2 separate regions of the Homo sapiens genome follow, and region 2 is linked to region 1. A link means that fine-mapping ties the variant in region 1 to the expression of a gene that starts in the linked region. Tissue or cell type: whole blood. Region 1 holds a variant in brackets; the other region holds the start of a gene. All regions are shown on one strand. Distances are from middle to middle.

What was found. PIP is the estimated chance that this variant, and not a neighbour inherited with it, causes the effect.
Region 2: NOL10 starts here. The variant in region 1 is fine-mapped to the expression of NOL10 in whole blood (TOPMed, PIP 0.97).

What each region holds. Positions count from the first base shown.
Region 1 is chr2:10,553,068-10,561,169 of GRCh38, forward strand. No RefSeq gene overlaps it. Among named protein-coding and RNA genes, the nearest start is that of ODC1-DT, 110 kb to the left of the region's middle. The variant T/C (reference allele first, on the strand shown) is at 5,094.
Region 2 is chr2:10,685,643-10,693,738 of GRCh38, forward strand. It overlaps NOL10 (nucleolar protein 10), which reads right to left and starts at 4,333. Exons shown (of 21, transcript NM_024894.4): 1 at 4,154-4,333. The coding sequence starts at 4,219. It also overlaps the pseudogene RN7SL832P. RefSeq lists enhancers at 3,780-3,839, 3,900-4,179.

The DNA of each region.
Region 1 (8,102 bases):
ACCCAAGCCCAGCAAGGTCTACCCTTCCTCCCCTGGCCTGGAGGCTGTGGACCACCACCACACAGGCCCATGGGCTCAGGGCTCTCGGGCTTGCAACAGGACATGGAGAAAAGACTGAGAAGCCCAGCCCACAGTGGGGGTTTCTGGAATGTTCCCTTGGGAATGGAAGGAACAGGGACCTCTGCAAAGGCTGATTTGATTTTGTTGCCAAGCCTTTTATATAAGCCTTTCTCAGTCCCCCCACAGCCCCCCTACACTTGAATTTCTGCTTCTGGATATGTGTGCACAGATGGATAAAAATCAAACATAGAATGTGATGTCCCTCTCCAGAACATGTAAAGAACTACAATTCCTCAATGACAGCAACAGGAAAAAGCCCAGGCTGGGTGCCGTGGCTCATGCCTGTAATCCCAGCACTTTGGGAGGCTGAGGTGGGTGGGTCACCTGAGGTCAGGAGTTCGAGACCAGCCTGGCCAACATGGCAAAATACCATCTCTACTAAACATACAAAAAATTAGCCAGGTGTGGCGAATGCCTGTAATCCCAGCTACTCGGGAGGCAGAGGCAGGAGAATTGCTTGAACCCGGGAGGCGGAGGTCGCAGTGAGCCGAGATCACGCCACTGCACTCCAGCTTGGGCAACAAGAGAGAAACTCTGTCTCGAAAGAAAGAAAAAAAGTTAAACACAGAATTACCCTATGACCCAGCAGTTTCACGCCCGGGTATATATCCAAAAGAACTGAAAGCAGAGACTCCAACAGAGAGTGCACACCCATGTTCACAGCAGTGTTATTCACAGTCACCAGAAGGTGGAAGCGACCCACTTGTCCCTCCGCAGAGGGACGCATCAGTGCAGTGAGGCCCAGTCACACAGTAGATGCTAGTCAGCCATGGGCAGGCATGAAACTCGAATACCTGTTACCACACCGGTGAACCTCAAGAACACTACGTTAAGTGAAAAAACCAGACACAAAGGGACAAACTCCTCGAAAACACCACGTTAAGTGAAAAAACCAGACACAAAGGGACAGACTCCTCGACAACACCACGTTAAGTGAAAAAACCAGACACAAAGGGACAAACTCCTCGAAAACACCACGTTAAGTGAAAAAACCAGACACAAAGGGACAGACTCCTCGACAACACCACGTTAAGTGAAAAAACCAGACACAAAGGGACAGACTCCTCGACAACACCACGTTAAGTGAAAAAACCAGACACAAAGGGACAGACTCCTCGACAACACTACGCTAAGTGAAAAAACCAGACACAAAGGGACAGACTCCTCGACAACACTACATTAAGTGAAAAAACCAGACACAAAGGGACATGACTCCTCGACAACACTACGCTAAGTGAAAAAACCAGACACAAAGGGACATGACTCCACTGATATGAGGCACCCGGAAGAGGCAAATTCATAGAGAGAAAAGTCCAGTGGCGGTTACCAGGGGCTGGGAGGAGGAGGAAATAGAGAGTGTTTTGTGGGTGCAAAGTTTCAGCAGGGGATAATGAACAAGTTCTGGGGGTGGATGTTGGTGATGGCTGCACAACAATGAATGGATTCCTGCCACTGAGCTGCATGTTTGAAAATGGTTAAAATAAGGCCGGGTGCGGTGGCTCACGCCTGTAATCCCAGCACTTTGGGAGGCCGAGGCGGGTGAATCACCTGAGGTCGGGAGTTCAAGACCAGCCTGACCAACATGAAGAAACCCCATCTCTATTAAAAATACAAAATTAGCCTGGCGTGGTGGTGCATGCCTGTAATCGCAGCTACTCAGGAGGCTGAGGCAGGAGAATTGCTTGAACCTGGGAGGCGGAGGTTATGGTGAGCTGAGATCACGCCATTGCACTCCAGCCTGGGCAACAAAAGCGAAACTCCGTCTTAAAAAAAAAAAAAAGAAAAGAAAATGGTTAAAATAGCAGAGGAATTCTCCCCATGCAAGGGACAGGCCATTTCTCCTTGTCTGATGAAAAGTTCTGCAGATGCCCCAGGTGACAGTGTGATGCTTGTTGAGCAGTGGGCCAGGCCCAGCCTGGGATAGGGTCCCAGTGTTGTGATGGAGGGGAGGCTGGTGTCCAGGACGCCAGGGGCACCCAGTGCTCCTTTGGGTGCTGGCTTCACGCGTGGAAGTCGCGCAAGAGTCACGGAGGTAAATTCAAGTTGAGTCATTTGCAGGATGTGCAGAGCGGGGTGGGCCCTCCAAACTTGGCAACCTTGGAGGAAATGGTTTTATATTTTTTGACTCTCATGTAACCTAGACACTCAGCTGGGACTCTATTTCCTATTTCAAGACTTTTCCAAACAGTTGTGTTTCCAAAGACCTTCCTAAACACACAGCCAGGGGAAGGAACAGGACCTGCTGCTCCAATTCCCTCGGCTCCCAACGCCCCTCAAGTGTTTGCACAGGAAAATGGTAGCGTAGGACACCAGGCGGGCAGGAAGCCGCAGGAATCTCAGAAGCTGCTTTCTGGATTTGACCTCAGGCAATTAAAAAATAGCAAAATAGATGGTGAGTGAAGAGGGTTTATGAGCTGCAGACCCGCAAGGCTCTTGCAGGCACCGAAAGACACAACGGAGAGTCTGCCTGTGCGCACGCAGGCCTAGCAACCAGCATTTGCTCATTGTGCATTCCTGCACTCTCGGGGAACTTAGGGAGCCTCCCGTGGGGCAGGCAGAGGCTGGGAACTAGAGCAGGAAGGCCCGCGGGTCCATCCCATGGTCTCACTCCCTTTCCTCTTGTCCCCTTCCCCTTGGGGCATTCCCAAGGCTGCAGATACCGCTTACCGAGCGGGGCCCTGGCGGGGAGGGATGCGGGCCACAGCCAGATGGGACATCTGGTTGCTCTCTCCCGAAACACCCAACTCATTTCCTTCACCCTGTGTGGCTGCAAGGGCCAGCTGGCCTCCCTCCGGGGGTCCCTCAGCGTAAGCCGGTGGGGAGCTCCGAGGCTTGGTTTCTTCTGTCTCAGCAGACCATTTGCCTTGGTGCCTTATATTGTGTCTTTTTTTTTTTAATGGATTTTAATTTTTCCAACAGTTTTGGATTTACAGAAAAATTGAGAAGATAGTACAGGGAGTTCCCATAAACCCCACATCCAGGTTCCTCCATTATTAACATGGGGCATGAGTCCGGCCCATTTGTTCCGATGAATGGACTGACAGTCATTCTTCAGGTCCACTGTTGGCTCAGATCTCCTCAGTTTTCACCTTAAGTCCTTTTCTGTTCCAGGATCCCCTGCAGAAAGCCACAGGCCATTTAGTCATGGCCTCTTTAGGCCCCTCTGGCTAGGACAGTTCCTTGGGCTTTTTTTTTTTTTTTGTCTCCCTCTTTAGACTGGGAGCTCCTTAAGAGCAAAGGTAAAGCTCGCCCCCGCGAGTCCCCCCATGGTGCCTGACGTCACGCTCTGCCCATCCCAGGCCTCCATGGGTGATGAGAGGCCTGAGTTGAGGCACCAGCCCCAAATGTGTGCGATCACGCCATTGAGCAGGGAGAGATGGGGCTGGGGGGAATTTCACTTGCTTTTGTTACATTTCTGTAACATTTATGTCTTTAAAAATAATCAGCATACGTTTCTCTTCCAATTAGGAAAACTGCAGCAAATCAAGCCGGGAGCTGGGGCCTGGGCAGTTCATGATCTGGCTGGGTTCCCCGCTCAGGCAGTTCACGCGCACAGACCGCCCCCTGGAAGAACTGCGGCTGGAATGAGCAATTCTCCTGAGAAAGCAAAGACACGGACTCACAAGGGAGTTCTGGGCAGAAACGGAGACGGAGATTGGAGTGAAGCGTCCACAAGCCAAGGAGTGCCAAGGAGTGCCAAAGATTGCCAGCAACCCCCAGACGCTGGAGGAGGCCGGGAAGGAGCCTCCCCAGGAGCCTTTGGAGGGAGCAGGGCCCTGCTGACACCTCGATGTCAGACACCTGGCCTCCAGGACGGTGAGAGCGGGTTCTGTTGTTGCGAGCCACCCAGCTCTTGGCACTTGGTTACGCGGGTCACAGGACACCAGTAGAGCCATATCTACTCATTCATTTCAGAAACGTTGTGCCAGTACGTACCAGGCACTTTCAAAGACACCGGGGATACGGAAATAAAGAATAAATGGGATCCTTGCTCTCAGTGGAGTTTCCATTCTAGTAGAGGAAGATGAGCAAAAATAAATAAATGATAACTTCTGTCTGGGCGCGATGGCTCACATCTGTAATCTCAGCACTTTGGGAAGCTGAGGCGTGCAGATTACCTGAGGTCAGGAGTGCGGGACCAGCCTGGCCAACATGGTGAAACCCTGCCTCTACAAAAAATACAAAAATTAGCCAGGTGTACTGGCACACGCCTGTAGTCCCAGCTACTCAGTAGGCTGAGGCAGGAGGATCGCTTGAACCCGGGAGGCGGAGGCTGCAGTGAGCCGAGATTATGCCACCACACTCCAGCGTGGGCGACAGAGTGAGACTCAGTCGCAAAAAAATAATAAAAATAAATAAATGATAAGCTATGACAGCAGGGAGAGCTGTGAGATCCACACAACAGAGGTGTCAGAGAGGGTGTGGGTTCCCTTAGGCTGCCCTTGCCAGGCACTACAAGGTGGGTGGCTGAAAAGGAAGCACCACCAGGCGGCGACTGGGTTCGGCCCATGGGCCATTGTTTGCCGCCCTGCTCTGTATAACAGGTGCCTCTCCTGGGGGCACACAACGGGCCATGCTGATCTCCCTGTTTTGTAGGGGGAAAGTGAGGCAGGAGGTTGCCTGACTGGTCCCTGAGCAACCATGGGCGTGGACACAGGCACGTCTCTCCAGAGTTCTTTCTGGTTGGAGGTGGCTTGTCTTGGTCCATGGACCTGCAGGGCCTGACTTCTGATGGGAAGGAAACTCGTAGCCACTCTGCTGGGGGACAGGGTCTCTGGGCAGAGCGCCAGTGTCTTCTCACCTGTCCCAGAGCCCTGGCCCACAGCCTCCTCCCACCCTACCTGGCTCTGTCCTCCGCTGCACCCAGGCTGCATTTCCAGGAAATGCCTCTCGTTTCCCCACACAGGGAAGGAAGCAGGAGGCCCTGAGCCGGGATCAGCCTCCAGCTCAGCTCCCAGGAAAATGGGTGCACC[T/C]CGCCTCACCCCTACCCTTGGGCCCACCCTGGCTGAGGCTCAGATCACCACATGCGCAGCTCTCCTTGGTCCCATGCCGACTGGAGGCCAGAATTCGGGCTGTTTTGAGCTAATACAGATGAGTTTCTTCCCCTCTCTCATGCCCTTCTCCATTCATTCACTTATTCATTAAGCCTGTATTTAGTAAGCACCTGCTGTGCACAGCGCTGTGCTGGGCGGCAGGTGCCTTGATGACGAGGCCTTGCCATGGAGTGTCCACCTCGTGGCCGCCAGGCCCTCCAGGGCACAAGTGTCTTCACAAGACTTAGGCTTTGAAGGAAAATGAGTCCAGTTTGGCGGGACTGTGGGAAAGAGGGGTGCTCCACTCCACGTCCAAGCTGGACAGGAAGACCCCACCCTCCCCAGGAAAACCAGGCAACGGGAGGCTCACCTGACTCCACCTTCACAGTGTGAGGAAACTGAGGCAGGGGCTGAGCGGCAGCTTCCGAGACCCTCCAGCCCCTGGTCCTGCCTTGGCTGCGACTGGGCCTGTGGCACAGCAGGGACACCACAGCCCAATCGTGAGCAGGAACATGGGGATATGTGACCCCCTCAAAGCCCCTCTTAGCAGAGGTGGGGCTCTCAGACCTGAGCAAGATTCTGCTCATGTGGCCCCACACAGACAAGGGGTCCTGCTTCCTGCACTCCAGGAGGTGTGTGAGGTGCCTGTGGTGGGTCCAGCCCTGAGAAGAAGCAACGGCGGAGTGACAGGGTCTTTCCTGTCCAATCAGGACCATGGAGCTAGAGCAGCACCTGAGGAGCTTTGTGTCCTCATCCAGGGCCACAGTCCCCATTGCCCCATTCATTCAGTTGCTGCTGCCTGCCAGAGACTCACATGGAGCCTCTGAACATGGCGTGCCCCACGTCCCACTGACAGCGCTGTGTGTGCTCCTGTTTGTGGAAACCAGGGCAAGGAGGGTGAGTGACTTGTCCACTGTCATGCAGCTGCTGCGCGGTGGGGCTGGGATTGCACCCAGGGACTGACCCAAGCCCCTGCCCAGCCCCAGGACCCCAGATTCTGGGCTGGCCCCTGTGCCTGAGTTTTAGGACCCCCACCACCGCCCCAGCATTGCCACGCTGTCTGCGTTTCTAGGCTGAATTTTGTTCTCATGGAGGGAGGGACCGTCCTACCTCTTATGCACCCACACCCCCATCCTGCTGCCCGGGACAGTGCCAGGCTGCCGGGGGCATTTGATGAGATGTGACGTGTAAAGAATCTGATGGTGCCTGGTACAGAGTCGTTCCTGCAGGATGCTCAGCCTCACCCCTCCCCGCCCATCCCGCCAACATCTCTGGCCCAGTGCAGACCCAGCATAACCATAGATGTGGGTATGGCAGGAGCATTATTCTGGTGGGTCCTGCCCACAGGACAGTCCTCTATCCGCATGACAAGATGCCACCACAGTGGCCTCTACAACGTACAGTAAGCACTCACTGTATGTACAGCAGGAGTAACCGTGCTCTTTGCCATGGCAGAAGGTGGCAGTCGCAGCAGTGTTGGCTGTCATGGCTGCTGGTGAGGCGCTGCGCCTCTGTTACAATGGGAACCAGCAAAATGAAATTTACTTATTGTTGCAAGATAATAGCCAAGCCTTTTAAACATATGCTTTTCAAACAAACTCATCGCCATGGTAACCCTCTTAAAACAAGATGCAACCTGGCTTAAAGACCCTGAGAGCTAATTCTAGTAGTGCTTTGTATTTAGTTACGCCTTTCTTCTGAATTTAATGGACTTCACTCACTAGGCTCCACTAACATCCTCTGAAGTCTTAGGGGACAGATACTATTAAACCCATTTTACAGATGTAGACACCAAGGCACGGACGGGTTAAGTGACTTGGCCACTAACTGAAATCTTCGCCATGAGCAAGTCCGGACCAGACCCAGGTCTTGTTTCCTTCTGTTGTCTTCACTCATCAGACCGTCCTGGACTTTGAAAGCCCATCATCATGAAAGGCTTAGAGTTTCCCACAGCTTGGCCTGGGGAGCCCAGATGCTGCTGCCATTTGCGTGCAGGGAAGGCTGCTGGGCCAGGAGGCTGCAGAGGCGAGCAAAGGGCAAGGAGGAAGTTGTGGCTGAGGTTCCCGGGATGAAAAGATCCCCACGGAGAGCTCCATGGGCTGGGACAGCAATGCAAGGACCCAAGTGCCCCACAACTCACTCTGGTACAGCTGACACCAAGCCACACCCGCCGGATTACAGGGGAATCTTTTACTCCCTGCCAGCCCCAGGGGCCAATGGCGTCTTCCTTGAGCATCCGGGCAAAGCCCTGCCTCGGGCCTTTGCACCAGCCAGTGGTTCTCAGGTGGGGCCCCAGGCCAGCTGCAGCAGCAGCATCTGTGATGTTGGAAATGCAGGTTTTCTGCCCCCACCTCAGACCCACTGAATTAGAAACTCCACCTTACATGCCCTCCAGGGGCTTCTGATGCACCCTGGAGATCTCTGCCTAGAATGTTCCTCCCGGATACCCTGGCCAACTGCCTCCCCTCCTTCCAGGCTTTGCTCACTTCTCACCTTCTCGGAGAGGCCTCTTCTGAGCCAGCCGATTTCTTGCATTCTCAGCCCTGCCCTCCCAGCTCTCCTGCCTGCCCAGTGGCTCGTGTGGCCTGCATTGTGTCTACTGGATGCATCGTCTGTCTCCCCCGTGAAACATAAACTCAAGTAAACGGCTCTTTTTGCTGAGTCAACTGCAGAGTGCTCGATAAGTAGTGCTTGCAGGAACTGTGACTTCTGGCTCAGGTTGATAGACGGGCGAATGAGGAGTAGCAGCAAGTGTTCGGGTGGGTGGGATGGGGTGGATGAGTTTTGCTTTGAGCATGTGGAACTCAAGGTGCCAGCGGCCACCCAGATGAAAGGCCCAGAGGCTATCTGGGAGGCAGCTCTGGGACACTGAAGAGAGGTGACACTATGGAAGGAAGAGTGACAGGCTTAAAGAAGACATCCTGGAGCATGTTAACACCTGCGTGGGTG
Region 2 (8,096 bases), 130 kb after region 1:
TAGCCCCAAGTCAAAAGTGTGATGGAGCTGAAAATGAAAATTAACTTTATTCATCAATACATTAAACAAATATTTATTTAGTACTACTAAATGCCAGTAATTAGGTATAGCAGTAGTAAATAAAACAGGAGGGAAAAAAAAGCCCTCTTGGCCAAGTGCAGTGGTTCATATCTATAATCCCAGCACTGAGGCAAGGGGATCACTTGAGCCCAGGAGTTCGAGACCAGCCTGGCAATAAAGTGGGATCACTGTCTCTACAAAAAAAAAAAAGCAGCTGGGCATGTTGGTACACACCTGTAGTCCCAGCTACTCAGTAGGCTGAGGTGCAAGAATCATTGAGCCCAGAGAAGTCAAGGCTGAGGTGAGCCATGATTGTGCCACTGCACTCCAGCCTGGGCAACAGAGTAAACCTGTTTCAAAAAAAAAAAAAATTTAAAAATCTAAAAACCCCTCCTTTCATGAAGCTTTCTTTCAAGTGAGGGAACACCAACAAATAAGGAAGTAAAACAATTAGAATGTCAGATGGTTATGTATGCCATGGAAAAAATAAAGCAAGAAAAGGAGACGAAGTGTTGGTGGAGAATTATAATTTTGAATAAGGTTAAGGTCCTCTTGAGCAACGACCTGAAAGGCATGAGGAGGCAAAGCCTGGAGAACATCTGGGAAAAAAGCAGGCAGGCAGGACCTGTGCCAAGGTCCTACGGCAGGAGTGTGCCTGGTCTCGAGCAGTGAGACTTGTGAGGCCAGTGTAAGGTGGAGAACAGTGACCGCTGAGCTCAGAGAGGAGGGCAGGAAGGCACAACATCAAGTAGGACCTTAAAAGTCACTCAAAGGACTCTGCTTTTCACCCCCAAGAGAGCAGGAGCCACTGGACAGTTCTGAGTAGAGGATCACCCTGGCAGCTTACTGATAACAGACTGTGGAATAAAGGGGTAGAGGGTGGAAACTGAGAAACTGCTTAGAAGTCAACTGCAATAACTGCAATTGCATAGTCAGGGGTGACAGTGTCTTGAATCAGTGACAGTAATGGAGGTGACTGGATTCTGGATCTATACTGAAGATAGAAGCAACAGCATTTTCTAGTGGATTGTATGAGAGCAAAGAAACAACAACAAAAAGCCTCCAGTGTTTTTGGCATCAACAGCTTGCGGGATGGAGTTGCCACTGGCTGAGGGAGGGAAGACCACTAGGTTGCAGGAGGGGGAAATGTGGGGGGAAAGCTGGTGTTCTACTTTGGACAAGTTAAGTTTGAGATGCCTATCAGACATCCAAGCGGGGATGTCAAGAAACAGTTGGATACACAAGTCCAGTTCAGAGTAGAGGTAAGGGCTAGAAACATCAATGTGATAGTTATCGATATGCAGATGTGCTTAAAGCCAGGAGACTGCCTAGGATCACCAGGGGAGTAAACGTAGAGGCTTCTCTACATTAATAAAAAGGTAAAGCCCAGAAGGAGAGAAGCAATATTTGCACAGATCAGACAACAACTGGGGTTCCACGTGTAGTTTAGGCACCACACCTCAAAGAAATAACCAGAAAATATTAAACAGGACAAGCAGGGGTTTCCAAATCCACTCAGCTCAAGCTACCCTCCCCACCACTCCACTGGAGCTCCTTGCCAAGGTCAAGGGCGCTCTGCATCATGCCAAAGTCGATGGTCATTTTTCTGCCTTCATCTTACTGAAGCTCTCAGTAGCAGCTGACACAGGTGACCACCACCTCCTCCTTGAAACACTTACTTCTACAAAACTACACATTTCCCAGTCTCCCCTTCCATCAGTGCCCACTACTCTTTCTTCTTTGCTGGGTTCCCCTCCTCTTCTTGGATGACAAATGCTAAGACTGCCTCAGGTCCTCAGCCTAGTTATCTTCTCTGTTCTTTCTCTCACAATTTGATCTCACCTAGTCCCAAATAACGACAGTAAATTCACCTGCAATCTCCATCCTAGTATCCATGCAACTGCTAACTACTCAACATCTCCATTTGGTATGTATTAGAACTTCAAATGTTCACTATTGAAAATAAAAACCTTGGGCCGGGTGCAGTGGCTCATGCCTGTAATCCCAGCACTTTGGGAGGCCGAGGTGGGTGGATCACAAGATCAGATCGAGACCATACCGGCCAACATAGTGAAACTCCGTCTCTACTAAAAATACAAAAATTAGCTGGTGTGGTGGCACGTGCCTGTAGTCCCAGCTACTGGGGAGGCTGAGGCAGGAGAATCGCTTGAACCCGAGAGGTTGCAGTGAGCCAACATCAGGCCATTGCACGCGACCTCAAAAAAAAATCTTGATTCTTTTTGCTCACTACGTTCCTCCTCTCCACCTTTCAATGTGTTCCTTCTTGATTCTTCTCCATGTCAGTTAGCAGCACCACCGTGCACCCACTTGTTCAGACTCAAAACTGAAGAGTTCTCTGATTCCTTCCTTTTTGTCACCTCAACTTCCCTCTACCAACAGTCCAATCCATTAGCAAGTTCCATTACCCTATCTACAAAGTATGTCCTGAATCTCACTGTGTTTTAGCATCTTCTTTGTTACCAGGCAAGCCCAAGCCACCGAAGTCGCTCACCTGGACTACCTAATTCATCCCGACTTGAACCCTCCCCAGCTAGACATTTGTCGCACAGCAGCCCACACAACAGTGACTTCCAGCAGCACTAAGAATAAAACTTGAACTTCCTACCTTTCCTACCAGGCCTACCTCTCCAGCCTCATCCACCCTGCTCTCGCCCCCTCACTCAGCATAGTGCAATCACACCTGTGCCTCTTCCGTCCTCCTACATGTCCAGTGCATTCCCATGTGGGGCTTTTGCACTTTCTGTTCTCAGCACTGAAAACTCTTCCCCACATCTTCACACGACTGGCTCCTCTTCATCATCCAAGTTTCTGCTCATATGTCACCTCTTGTAGAGAGGCCTTCCCCGAAGGTTTTATCCAAAACACTTTCTCTCAATATTTTATCCAAAACAGCTCTCTTCTAATCATTCACCACGAAAAGTACTTTTTGACTACCTTAAATTGCCTTATTTGCTCACTTGTTTATTTCCCTTTTCCCCAACAGGGAACCTTATCTGAAATGTCCACTATAGATCCCAATACTTAAAACAGAGTTGCTTGCACACAGTAACTTCTCAATACATGTGGAGAATGAATGAACAAAATGAGAAAGCTCATGGGGTGTGAAGAACAACTGGAAGACAGGGAATTATTCAAACCAGAATTTTAGGAAGAAAGGAAAAACCTAAGCACTGGCTCCAAATTTTTGTAGAAGCAGACGCATGGAAGGAGAGCTATATTTATTCTGTTTTCCAAGGGCAGGACTCAGGCCAACAGTGGCATGCTATAAGGTGACATATTTGAAAACCACTTTCTAACAAGTGCAGAGTCTCAAAATGGAAATGAGCTTCCACAAAAGGTAGTGCTCAGTGGTAGTGCTTGGACAGAGGCTGGATCATCACGTATAAGAAACAAAAGACAAGTTTCAGAGCCTAAGTGTGTCATGCTGGACAAGTCACCCTTCCCCTTGCTGGATCTCAGCTGCATATTAAACGCATTATTAAATCTCAGCTGCATTACTAAACACGAGAAGATTGGAAGAGAATTACCGACTTGTCCAAGCCCTCTCCAACTTTAAGACTAGGAATCAGGTTAAGTTCAACAAGTCTCGAAAATACTGTCCTCTACACCATAAATTCTGCAGATGCGAAGTCTGTATCTCCCTTGTTCACTGTTGTATCCCTAAGACCTGGCAAATGATAGGGACTCCACAAACAGCTGATGGCCATATGGGGGAGAGATGTGTCAACGAATCTGCCACGTTTTCCTCCTCGATGTACGGCAGGGACTGTGAACACCCAAAGAGGCCCAAATGGTTGCGTTCTCTGGAACAGAGAACTTTACAAAAGTTCCAGCAAAGCTCACTGACCCTGATTATCCCTTGGTCCAGTTTCTGGCGCGGTGACGGCAGTGTCCTTGTCTCCCAATGCCGACACCTCCCCCGGAAATTGTCAGCCGCCTCTGGGCCTCCCCGAGTCGGGGGGTGACCAGCGTCCAGCTAAAACAGAGGCTAGGGCCGAGGAGAGGGGCGGCTGCCCCACGAGGAGGACGACCCCCAAGAGCTCGAGAGTGAGGGGGCCGGGAAGTGACTCACCTCAGGAAGGGACTTGCCGCAGCTGAGGCTGTAAATCTTCACCTCATTGAGGCTGGAGACCTGCATGGCGCCGCACAACACTGTTCAAGTCCCGGGTCCTTTCCCACCAGCGTGCTCGAGCACCGTAATCCCGGGACCTCCGAGCCCCTGCTCCGCGGCGTGCGGCCGCTGGCGCCGACTGATGACGCACTTCCTGGAGCCGGAACACGCGGGCAAGTTCCCGGAAGAGGGAAGGTGGCTGAATCCGGGAAGAGCGGCGGCCGGGAGAAAAACTAGTGAGGCTCTGACAACCCGGCGTGGCTGTCGGCGACGCTGCTACGGGCAAGACTAGACACAAGCCGGGCGCGGTGGCTCACGCCTGTAATCCCAGCACTTTGGGAGGCTGAGGCGGGCGGATCACCTGAGGTCGGGAGTTCGAGACCAGCCTGACCAATATGGTGAAACCCCGTCTCTACTAAAAATACAAAAAAATTAGCCTTGCGTGGTGGCCGGCATCTGTAGTCCCAGCTACACGGGAGGTTGAGGCAGGAGAATTGCTTGAACCTGGGAGGCGGAGGTTGCAGTGAGCTGAGATCGCGCCGCTGCACTCCAGCCTGGGGGACAGAGCGAGATTCCCTCTCAAAAAAAAAAAAAAAAAAAAAAAAACTAGACACAGCTCTCCCTGCTGTTAGCATCCCGAGCGGCAGGAGGAGGCTTTCGAGTCTCTGCCCAGGCCGAGATGTCATCCTCCCGGGCGGGGGCGAGGCAGTTCAGCGAGTGAACCCAGCGAATGAAGGCGACCAGGGTGCGAATTCCGAGTGGAAGTGTATTCTCTTCTCTCCTCCAGTGTTTCTGCGATGTTACGTTAGAAGTACTGTAGGCCGGGTGCGGTGGCTCACGCCTGTAATCCTAACACTTTGGGAGGCCGAGGCGGGCGGATCACCTGAGGTCAGGAGTTCAAGACCAGCCTAGCCAAGATGGTGAAACCCCGTCTCTACTAAAAATACAAAAATCAGTCGGGCCTGGTGGCGCGCGCCTGTAATCTCAGCTACTCTGAAGGCTGAGGTGGGGGAATCGCCTGAACCCGGGAGGCAGAGGTTGCCGTCAGCTGAGATCGTGCCACTGCAGTCCAGCCTGGGCAACAGAGTGAGACTCCGTCTCAAAAAAAAAAAAAAAAAAAAAAGAAGACTGTGGCGTCATCTTCAACCCATTCCTATCTCTGGCCCTCACTTTCAGTATCTAAACCTGGATATTTCTAATTATGAAATATTTCCTTAAAGTAATCTGTTTTCATTCCTCCTGCTGAAACTCAAATACTTAACTATTTTTGGATTATAACTTTCCCAAGTGATCTTCTTACTTCCTTTGATTTAATGAACAAATTATTTTATGCCTTACTTTCTAAAACCCAAATATTATTGTTTTGCTCTCCTACCCACAACATTTTGGAAACTCTCAAATACCAACACCACATTGCATCAGAATTAGGTTGAGAGTTCTTCGTGGACCCTATATCATTTGTCCTTATATTCCCTATCCACCCCATCCACCCCTACCCAGAGTACCAGAACAGTGCCTGGCCTCTATTAGGCATTGCTACATATTTACATTTAGCCATGTACGTAGGGATATATTCCTTAACTCTGTCCTCAAATTTAAGATCCTCCACAAATTTTTAATTTTCTACACTGGTTACAGTTAAGAAAAACTGTAAACATCTTTGGGAAAGGTGGCATAATAGAATGGTTAGATCACAGACTCTGGCTTGGCTTGGTGGTGCAGGCCTATTGTCCTAGCTACTAGTGAAGCCGAAGCAGGAGAATCACTTGAGCCCAGGAGTTCTTGGCTGTAGCACGCAACGAGCGTTGGGTGTCCTCAGTTTGGCATCAATATGGTGACCCCACAAGAGCCAGGGACCACCATGTTACCTAAGGAGGTGTGAAGCGGCTCAGGTCAGAAATGGAGCAAGTCAAAACTCCCATGCTCACCAGTAATGGGATCATGCCTGTGACTAACACTGTACTCCAGCTTGGGCAACACAGCAAGACCCTATCTCTTGAAAAATAAATAAAGATCACAGACTCTGAAGCCAGACTGGCAAGATTCAAATCCCGACTGCCATTTTTAACTGAAAGACCTTAGGTAAGTTACCTAACCTCTCTGTACCTGTGTAAAATGGAGATAACAGTAGTATCCACTTCACAGAGTTATGAGGATGAAATACATTCATATTTATAAAACGTTTGGAACCCAGTACTTGGCACATAGTAAGACCATGTAAGTGTTTGTAAAATAAAACTGAAAATAAAGCCATATACCAAATAAGTGGAAATGTATCCAAATTCCATTAACATTTCCTTTTTAACAGTTTTATTGAGATATAATTAACATACTGTAAAATGTCCCCATTGAATGTACAATGTAATGACTTCTAGTGTATTCAGAGTTCTGCAACCATCACCACAATCATTTTTAGAACAAAAAGAAACCCCAGCCTCAATTAGCATTCACTCCATGCCCCATCCCCCACCCAAGCCCTAGACAACCACTAATCTACTTTCTGTTGGCGTTGTGGGTTTTTTCCATGGGGGCATCTCACTTTGTTGTCCAGGTTGGAATACAGTGGCATGATCATGACCCACTGCAGCCTCAAACTCGAGCTCAAGCTGTCCTTCCACCTTATCCTCCTGAGTAGCTGGGAGTACAGGCACACCACCAGAGCTGGCTGTTTTGTTTTTATAGAGATGGGTCTACCAGTTAAGCATCCCTAATCCAAACATTTCAAGTCCGAAATGCTCCAGTGAGCATTTCCTTTTGAGCATCACATTGACATTCAGAAAGTTTCAGATTTTGGAGCATTTTAGATTTTGGATTTTCAGATTAGGGATACTCAACCTGTATTTTGTAAGGGCACCAATCCCATTCATGAGAGCTCTGCCCTTAAGACCTAATCATGGGCTGAGCACGGTGGCTCACGCCTGTAATCCCAGCACTTTGGGAGGCCAAGGCAGGCAGATCACGAGGTCGGGAGTTCAAGACCAGCCTGGTGAACATAGTGAAACCCCTGTCTCTACTAAAAATGCAAAAATTAGCCGGGCATGGTGGCACGCACCTGTAGTCCCAGCTACTCAGGAGGCTGAGGCAGGAGAATTGCTTGAACCCGGGAGGCAGAGGTTGTGGTGAGCAGAGATGGCGCCACTGCACTCCAGCCTGGGCAATAGACCGAGACTCCGTCTCAAAAACAAAAACAAACAAACAAAAAAAAACTAATCATGACCAGGCGCAGTAGCTCATACCTCTAATCCCAGCACTTTGGGAGGCTGAGGCGGGCAGATCACTTGAGGCCAGGAGTTCTAGACCAGCCTGGCCAACACAGCAAAACCCTGTTTGTACTAAAAATACAAAAATTAGCCAGGTGTGGTGGTTGGCACCTGTAGTTCCAGCTAATCTGGAGGCTGAGGCACAGGAATCGCTTAAACCCGGGAGGCGGAGGTTGCAGTGAGCCAAGATTGTGCCATTGCACTCCAGCCTGGGCAACAAGAGTGAAACTCCGTCTCAAAAAAAAAAAAAAGGCTGGGCATGGTGGCTCATGCCTATAATTCCAGCACATTGGGAAGCCGAGGAGGACAGATCATGAGGTCAAGAGATCGAGACCATCCTGGCCAACATGGTGAAACCCCATCTCTACTAAAAATACAAAAATTAGCTGGGCATGGTGGCACACACCTGTAGTCCCAGTTACTGAGGTGGCTGAGGCAGGAGAATCGCTTGAACCCAGGAGGTGGAGGTTGCAGTGAGCCAGGAGGTGGAGGTTGCAGTGAGCCAAGTTTGCGCCACTGTACTCCAGCCTGGCAAAAGAGCGAGACTCTGTCTCAAAAAACAAAAAAACAGAAAAGTGAGTTTACGCCATAAATCACTGATTTCAGGACATTCATTTTTTTTTAGCATCTCTGAAAGGATGAGT